2 linked regions of the Homo sapiens genome follow. The protein of the gene in region 1 interacts with the protein of each later gene in a pairwise test. Each region holds a gene or a part of one and is shown on either strand. Other genes may lie near its edges. The genes, in order: NRIP2 and ELF5.

The links.
Region 2: the proteins of NRIP2 (region 1) and ELF5 interact in a two-hybrid assay, tested with the Homo sapiens proteins (one large-scale study listed by BioGRID and IntAct).

What each region holds. Positions count from the first base shown.
Region 1 is NC_000012.12:2,832,163-2,836,723, reverse strand, and holds the start of NRIP2 (nuclear receptor-interacting protein 2), read left to right. Parts: upstream 1-1,688; 5' UTR 1,689-1,740; coding exon 1,741-2,082; intron 2,083-4,507; exon of another isoform or gene 4,508-4,561. UniProt on the Homo sapiens protein: Down-regulates transcriptional activation by nuclear receptors such as NR1F2.
Region 2 is NC_000011.10:34,510,814-34,515,234, reverse strand, and holds the start of ELF5 (ETS-related transcription factor Elf-5), read left to right. Parts: upstream 1-1,440; 5' UTR 1,441-1,558; intron 1,559-3,510; exon of another isoform or gene 3,511-3,665; coding exon of another isoform or gene 3,666-3,691; intron 3,692-4,421. UniProt on the Homo sapiens protein: Transcriptionally activator that may play a role in regulating the later stages of keratinocytes terminal differentiation. Isoform 2 binds to DNA sequences containing the consensus nucleotide core sequence GGA[AT].

The sequences.
Region 1 (4,561 bases):
TATGGGAGTAGGCTCATCCTAATGACCTCATCTTAACTTCACCATATCTGTAAAGGCCCTATCTCCAAATGAGGTCGCCTTCTGAGGTACTAGGGGTTAGGGGTACATTTGGGGGGTGAAGGAAACAATTCAACCCATAACACTTTCTTTCCCTCTAAATGGGGATTAGAATACAGTATTTCTTCATATAATTGCAGTGGTTGTGAAAGTGTCTCAAAGAGGCTTGGTTCCTAGAAGCTCAGCAGACATCTGGTTTGTCTGAAAGTACATGTGCCTTGGAGCTGTCTGAGTCAGACTGCACCCTTAGGGAGCAGGGCTCAGGTGGGGTAATCACCCTGTGAGCATCCAACACAGGTAAACAGGTGCTTGGCCAATGCGTTTCCCTGATGGTGAAGAGGAAAGGCTGGAGAGAAAAATCTGCTGATAAGCCAGGGCTAGAAAAAGTCTGATACCAAGTCCTGGAGAGGATGTGGAACCTCAGGAGCCCCTGTGTGCAGCTGTCTCAGTGTGCACTGGTAAAAACACTCTGGCAATATGCCAAAAAGGCAAAGCTGTATATGGGATGCCCCAGCAATTCCACTCCTAGGTGTAGGTGTATACTCTAGAGAAATGCCTACATAGGTGCCCCAGGAGATGTGTGCAAAAATATTCATAGCAGCATTGTTTGTTAGACCTAAAAATGAAAAATAACCTACATTTCCTCAATGTCATGCATGCATCTAATGGAATACTATGTTACACAGCAGGTGAAGTCAATTAACTAGAGCTGGGCATACCGTATGGATGAATCTCACTAACAAAAACTATTCAGCAAAAAAGAGCAGATTGCAGAAGAATAAATACAGTGAGTAGGACAAAACCAACGACATATTGCTTAGAATGCATATGTAAGTATTTGCATAAAGAATATAAAGAAGTCTGGGCCTGATAAACACCAATTTCAGCAGGCGGAAGTGGAAGTGCACAGGGAGCTTCAACAGCTTATTTTTTAAACTGGTGATGAGTGAAGAGTACTGGTTATCTTATTCTTTATAACTTCTGTATATTTGAAATGCAACATTTTTTAAAGAGCCAGGACTTGAGGAGAGTCATATAAAGGAGACTGAGATGCCAGGGACAATTTCTACTCGTGGGAAGATTCAGAGTTGTTCCTGTCATTCCCTGGAACCCAGAATCCAGAGTCAATTAGTTAAAGACTCTGACATCTGCTAGGCGGGAGGCAAGAGACCTAACAAGGTAAGGCTAGGGGGATGAGAGGAGGGAAGGACGCTCTCATGCTGCCCCTCTTTGATCTGAACCCAGTTACTGGCCTGCGCGCCAGCCCTGGGCTGCAGATAATGCCAGGAGAAAACAGCTGGGCAGTCCTGGGAAGCCTGGGAGGGATGCAGAGGAGGGCGGGGGCCACACACGCTGGGAGGTGCACTAAGGCTGCTGCCCCCACACAGTGACAAGCGCTTCCTCGCAAACCACCTGGCACGGGCACCCTGACAGTTTACAGCACTGTCTCTCACTCTCCTTCTCTCTCTCTCTCTCACACACACACACACACACACACACACACACATACGCCCCATCCACCGCCCGCTCTGACCAGGACCCCAGCGTTGGGGATGCGGCCAAGTCAGCCAGCTGTGGGCCCTGCCAACCCTCCCTCTCTTCTAGGACTGGGTTTTTCCAGCCGGAGTCTCACTCCCTCTACAGCAATCTCGGGAAATTGGAGACTGACGCGGCTGCTCCTGCATGTTATTTATTTTTCCTCTTTCCCTCCCGTGGAGACCCTCCTGTTGGAAAGAGAGCTGCAGCACGGGACAGAGACAGGCAGGAAGAAGCAGAGAGGACTCGGTGACGCCCCCACCGAGCAGCCCCTGGCCCACTCCTCCAGCAGGGGCCATGAGCACCAAGCAGGAGGCCAGGAGAGATGAGGGAGAAGCCAGGACGAGGGGGCAGGAGGCACAGCTTCGAGACCGAGCCCACCTGAGCCAGCAGCGCCGGCTCAAACAGGCCACCCAGTTCCTGCACAAGGACTCGGCCGACCTGCTCCCGCTGGACAGCCTCAAGAGGCTCGGCACCTCCAAGGACTTGGTGAGGCATCACCCCTCCCCTGCCAGCGTCCCCTGGCCTTTTCCTTCCACTTCCCAGATCCTGAGCAGGAGGCAGGACCAGAAAGTGCAGACCCTCAGCTTTCAGGTCCCGCTCCCTTGCTGAGATGGGGAGAGGTCATCCTGCCAACTCAAGGCTCTTCACCGGGGATGTTCCCATGGTTTGGTGGCTCTGAGGGTTCCTATTCTCTCATTGCTTGGCTTCCCTTTTTCCTCTAATGGCCCCAAACTTGAGGGTGGTGAGGAGCTAGGCTGTTTAGAAGTGGGGGCTTACAGGAACACAGGAACCCTCTAGAGTGGTCACTTACAACCAGGAGGGCCTGGAGGACTGGCCAGTTTAGGGTTGTGACTTCCTGCTTCCCCCGAACCACAGGTTCCCCAGACCAGGTCTGTCTATCCACTTGTCCTTTCTCCTCAGAATCAAAACATCGGGGGTCTCCATCCTTCCCAGGGCATCAGGGTTTTGTGTGGCTCTTGCCGGGGGCCCCTGGCCGCCTTGAGTGCTGCTCCCCCAACTCCTGAGTGGAATGGACCTTCCAGGCTCCTCTCCTCCCATCCCATGTCTGCAGCAGCTTTGGCCTCAGAGGAATGGGGCAGGGGAGTAACAGTGAGGATGTGAGTGGGCGGCGGAAAACTGCAGATTCAGGCATTCCCCTCTGAGAGGCAATGCTGACAAGCGGGGCTGCGCAGCCACTTCGCTTGGGATCAGATCCTGGCTCTGCCATTTACTAACTTGTGCAATTGACTTTACGTCTCTGTGCCTCAGTTTCTTCATCTGTTAAATGAGAATCAAATCAATCATAGGATTGTTGGGAGAGTTGTTAGAGCTAATATATTTAAAGCACTTAGAACAGTGCCTAATAGCAGGCACTATCTAAATGCTATTATTATTATTCCCCCAGCTATTACTCCATTTAGTCTGAGAAATATTCCTGGCCTCTGACCCGTGGAAGAGAGGAAATCCTTTGTAGAAAGGCTTGGGAGCACTCGGTTCCCTGTCCCCTCTCCTAGTCTGAGAAGAGGTACTCAACCAGGCCTGTACTGACAGGTTGGAAGCATGTCTGCAGGCCTGTGCTCCACCAACTGCTTCTCCCCGGGAACCTGAAGGCCAGTGCAGCACCTCGCCTTTCCCTACTTAGCTCCACCTTTCCAGACTCCTCTCAGCCTGGGTTGCCCCCACCAGGACCACAGCCCAGAGGTCTGGCAATTCCCTAGCTCCCAACGAGAAAAGGGATTGCACTGAGACTTAATTCAGGGAACTGCCAGGGGCTTATTCCTACTTGCAGTGGCAGCAAGCATAGCTGAAAAACAGGGATGGAGCAGGGAAGCGGGTTCTTCGGCTCTCAATGGCTGGAACCTACTGGGGACCATCCTACATGTGTTTGGCCCCAGGAGAAGGTGCTCTACTGACATTGCCATCCCGGAGTGGCAGGTCCCGCCTTCTAATGAGAAAGTCCCGGGCTTTTCACCTCTCCCCTCTGCCTAGGATATCCCCAATTGATCCCTAGCAGTTACCTCCTATGGCTCTGGGAGCAAAGGCACAACAGGCAGGGAAGACCCCATCGTCTCCCTCCCTGGGATGGCTGAGGAGCAAACTGCACAACAGCGGGAGGGGCCTGAAGCCTGTGTTCATCGTGGGAAGGTGGAAGATGGGAAGTGCAGAGCCAGTCTCTCCAGCCAATCCCAGAGCTCGCTGAACTTTTCCCAGCACTGGGTCTACTGCTGGCAGCCTTGCTGCCAGGAGCAACCCCAAGGGCCTCATTAATCTAAGGGTAGAAAAACAATCCCAGGATCCCAAGGAGAGAGGGCAGGTGGAGAGGTGCATAGAGCCTGGGGGAAGAGTCAGTCTGCAGCAAGCATTTATTGAGTGCCTACTAGATGCTGAGCCATGCCCTGGGATATAAAAATGAGTGAGGTAGACTCAAGCGCTCTCCAGGCTAATGGGGGAGTAAAATCCATACATAACATTTGTGAGAAGCATGGAAAAGGGAGCTAAGACAAGGGACCCCAGCTTGGCGTGTATGGAGAGAGGAGCATGAAGAACTCAGAGAGGGTATCCTGGAGAGGGTACATCCTGCATTATAGGATGTACACAGAATCTCAAACTTAAGATACAACCTCTCTCTCAAATAAAGTGTGTTAAGCCAGTCATCCAGTCTAGCCTCGAGAAGAGTGAGGAAGAGGAGTTTCAGGAAGAGAGGAGAGAGGAGAGAGGAGTGAAGACATGGAGGCAAAAAGCGGCCTGGTATGAGCGGTGCTTCTGGGGCCCATAAACAGAGTGGCAGGGAAGGAGGCACGGCCCGGTCATGTGGACTGTGGATCACCTTCAAAAGCTTGAGCTCTATCATGAAAGCAATGCGGGGTAGGGTGGGGGGTCTTTGATGCATTTTAAATAAGAGAAGACATGGTTAGTTTCATGTTTTACTTTGGTGCTTCTCAAACTTTAACCTGCACATGAATCA
Region 2 (4,421 bases), on another chromosome or scaffold:
AAAACCTCTCCACTGAGAAGAATGTATATGTTCAGAAAGAAACACTGGTAACATTTCAGAAATCAATGACAAGATAGGCCAGTGCCCAACAATGGAAAACACAGTGTGTGGGACTATCACAGTGCACAGTCCCCTAGAAACCAAAGAGGAAGAGAAGTACAGAATTTTAAAGCTTGAAAGAGGCCCAAAGACCATGTAATCCAGTTACTTGCAAACCCTTTCTAAGGGCAGATTCTTTTGTTCAAATGAAATCTTACCCGGAAGATTTATATAAAAGCTGAGATGCTCTTATTGAGTCAGGAAGGAACGGGGTGGTCTAGAGCCTAACCCACTCTACTCCACTCCCATCCTCTCACCCGCAAAAGTCCTTGTAAGGGCTCCAGGGAGCCCCTGGGGTTCCTCAAGTCACAGTTTGAAAAAAATCACTATTTCAATCCCACTTCCTCCTTTTGCCACTGGGGAAAAATGAAGCCCAGAGAAGTCCAGGTTACCCAGCCAAGATAGGGGTCTAGGCAGTCACCTATCTTCCTTCAACAATTTTTCCATGATGACACCCCGAATCCTCTCACGAACTGCCTTTTGTTTCTGCAGACTATATGCGTATTTGTATTTGTGTGTTTGTAACCATGCCCGGTGATCCCAAGAAAACATAACAAACCAGTCCTTGCTTTCGCTTTAAAGCTTGGAGTCTGCCATTTGAATACAACATCTCGGCTGCCCAAGATGGCTAGAAGCAGAATGCAAAAAGGCACAGGGTTATAAATACCTGTCTCATAGATGACCTGGGACACTGTGCTTTGCAGCCTAAATTAGGCAGAGTTTCTGTTGTCACGAAGAAGTACTAAAAAGCGGGCAGTTCTCAGCGAGACACCTGAGAGCTGGCATCCACATGAGGAGAGGCCCCATCACTTACATTACACTCATGAAGCCCAGAGATGTTAGCTACATTTTTCTAGGTAGCACAGCTAGGAAATGATGGACACTGAATTTGAATCTAAAGGCAACTAGCTGCAAAACCTGAGGTCTTAACACTGGGCCTATAATGCTCTTCCTTCTCACCACATGGGAAAAACGGAGAAAGACATGATCTTACAAAAGCACTGGGCTCAGCCAGCCTGGGAGAGAGGCAGCGCAGACCGGCACCAGGGTGGAATCTCTGTGTTTCCCCTCCAGCTTGCACAGAGGAAAATTCCTCACCAAACGCACGATCCCCGCACAGCTCCCAGGGACAAGAATTTTCTGCTTGTTTACTGAGTCCCCTGGGCTGGGAGTGGGGGGTTGCAGGGCAGGGGTGAGCTGCGCACAAAAGCAGGATAAAGGTAAACTTTCTGCATATGAGAACCATTTCCCCCCCTCCAAGGAGCCGTGTCACACTGTATGTCACCGTCATCAAAGGGGCTGTGCGTAAACCTGAAAAACCAAACGGACCTGTCTGTAGGTGTCACTTATATCACAAGGCTACAGGTGTCTTTATTTCCACTGCACGCTGGTGCTGGGAGCGCCTGCCTTCTCTTGCCTTGAAAGCCTCCTCTTTGGACCTAGCCACCGCTGCCCTCACGTAAGCGCCTTTTCTTTGCTTTTTTGGATGAATCGTAAGGGGTGTCAGGGCTCAGAGGCTCGGCCTGGGGCCTGGGTCTGCTCGTCCATCTCCAGCTCCAGGGCCGGCACCTGCGCTGGGTGCAGTCCCAGGGCCTCCGGGAGCTGTTTGACACGGATGTGACGGCTTGCCTCAGAGAGACCTGCTTGCCTCCGCAGGCCGTGTGGCCACCAGCCCTCCTCACAGCCACCACTCCCTCTGGATCCCTTAGCTGAACCAAGGGGAATTAAGAGAACGCGCCCAGGCGCTCAGTTCTCTATCCTCCCTAAAGCTTCTTTAGGAAGGGAAGCTGGATTTTACTCAGAAAAATATTCAGCTTCAAGGAAAGCCCCCCACCTACCCTTCTCCCCTGACTGAATTCCTTTCCCCACCGGCCTGCCCACTGTCCCCCACCCCCTCGATACAGAGAACTCCCTTATTATAGTTTGGGGCATTTTCAGGAATTTGTACAAAACAGTTTTAAAAGAAACCCATTTGCCCTCTGACATCTCCCCAGAAGAGAATGCTTCCAGAAAAGCAATGGTTAGCGTTTTTCCACTGTGTTCTCAGGCCTTGTCAGACTCTGCAGTGTGTGGGGTTTCTGTGGGGTTGCCCCCTGCTGACAGCGACAGGTAGCACAAGCTCCCTCCTCAGGCTGAAGCCGGGCCTGCGTGTGGATGCCTTTTGTACGCCCGAAAGTGTGTCAGACATCACTAGGTGCAATCGCTTCATGTTACAGATGAGGAAACTGAGGCCAGAAAGGCTAGATGACTTAGGGAGGCAGCTCTGTGGTTCAGTCTAGTCCAGAGACCCAGGGAAAGGGGTGGTTTGCCCATCCGAGTGAACGCTTGATTCTGTTGTCTTCGTGTTCTCTGCAATACTGTTTTTCATAATCTAAGGTATTCTCGGGCCGGAGTTTTCAGTTTGGTCATCTCCCTTTTTCAGAAGTCACCAGAGTGGCAAATTTTTAGATACATTGTTGATGGCTGATTTTTCCCTCTAAAACAGGATTGAATATATGTATTATGCCCCGTCCTTTGCATATATCGGATTGCATGATTTAAAAAAAAAAAAATCCCCATTTTAGAGATGAGGAAACCGTAGTTCGAAGAGGGGCATGAATATTTATATACCACATCTATATGAAAAAAAGCTTAAGAATTTCAGCAGTCTGGGTAGTAAGAAATGTGCCCCACGTTCGCAGCAGCAGAGGTAGGATTTAACCCCTGATATATGTAATCCAAAACTGGTAAGCTTTGCATCGAAGCCTACAGCAAACTACATGGCATACCTTTTTGGATCTTCGCTGCACCTTCAGAAAAACAGCTACAAACAAACAAACACGCAAACTCCCTAAGCGAGCTAAAGAAAAATGAGGAATCACTTGACAAGAGGTCAGCAAATTGGTTCTCACAGTTGCTAGGGTTCCTCTCAGAAGAACAAACCCTCAAGCACCCAACCCTCAATCTTTCTTTAGCAGTAAGTGTTGAAATACTCCACTGGGTTCTCCTCAGTGGGCCCCTTCTTAGGGAGGTCCAAGGGCTGGGAAATTGACCCTCCCTTGCTCACAAGTCTTGGGACGGAGTGGACATTTGGGTATCACTGAGGCTTTAAGGAAGGAAAACCGATTTTCTTCCCAATGATACCACTCAGAGGGTGGGGTTGAGGAAGCCCAATCTTGGCCACTTTTTTCTATATTTTGCACCCTATGGCCTAGTTCTGCCCAGTGATGATTTGGCCCGTAAACAGCCAATGTGTAGATGCTTAATTGGGCCAATTTTTGGTCACATGCCCAGAGTGAAGTTGATGATCACCACCAGAGTCAGGAAGGAATTTTCCTCCTCTGGCAAACTGGCCAAGGCTGAGTGGTTTGCTCCTTCCCCTCTCTCTGGGAGGCTGAGCAGGGGTGCCGGGTTGCTCAGGCCATGGGAGCCACACCTGTTATTGCTGCCTCTGATTTGTGTGACACTGAGAAGCCCACAGGCCTGTCCCTCCAACTCGGTGGACCCTCTCTGTGTGCATTTGGTGTGTGAGCCAGCTCTGAGAAGGGTTCAGAAGCCACTGGAGGCATCTGGGGACCTCAGCTTCCATGCCATCTCTGCCTCACTCCCACAGGTACCTGCAGCCAACTTTCTCATGTGTGAAGTGAGCCCACCTGATTCCACCACCTTGTGTTAATCATTCTTGAGCTTTTCCTACTTACTAGGCAGCTAGAATGATGACTACATTTGGGGGAAACTGATTCCAGCTTCCACGGATCTATCGGTGGGCAGTGAGTGAGGGTCCAGAGTGTTTAAGGTACCCAGCTAGGCTGGGCAAAGAATATCCAGTTGTCCTGAGGTATCTACCTCCAACTGGGGTAGAAGGCAGTGGGCACAGGAGAAAAGGGAGAAGAGGAAATCAGGGAGCTTTTTCAGCACTAAAAGTTCAGTCTGTGTGTAGTGGTTGGATTTTCCTCCAATTTGGTGGACTTGCTTGACCAAAAAAATGCAAATATAATCAATGTGTATGCATATGTGTGTGAGTGCCCAGGTTTGGATGTGTTGGCTCAATCAGGTGGGTGTCTGCAGAAAGTCACAGAGTTAGGGCAGACCTTGGGGGCTGTTTTATCTGTGTTCTTGTTTAGTAGTTGAAGAACTGAGATTTGGAGAGGGGCAAGAGGCAGAATCATAACTCCAGGCCCAGGGCTCCTTCCATGATGAGCCAGCTAGTCCCTCACAAAATGAAAAGTATGTCCAGAACAGCAGGCCAAGAGACCTCCCAGCAGATCCCTGTCTGTACTGGCGCTGACACTAGGTGGATCTATCACAGCGCTTCTCCACCTTTTTTTTATCACTTCTCCTAA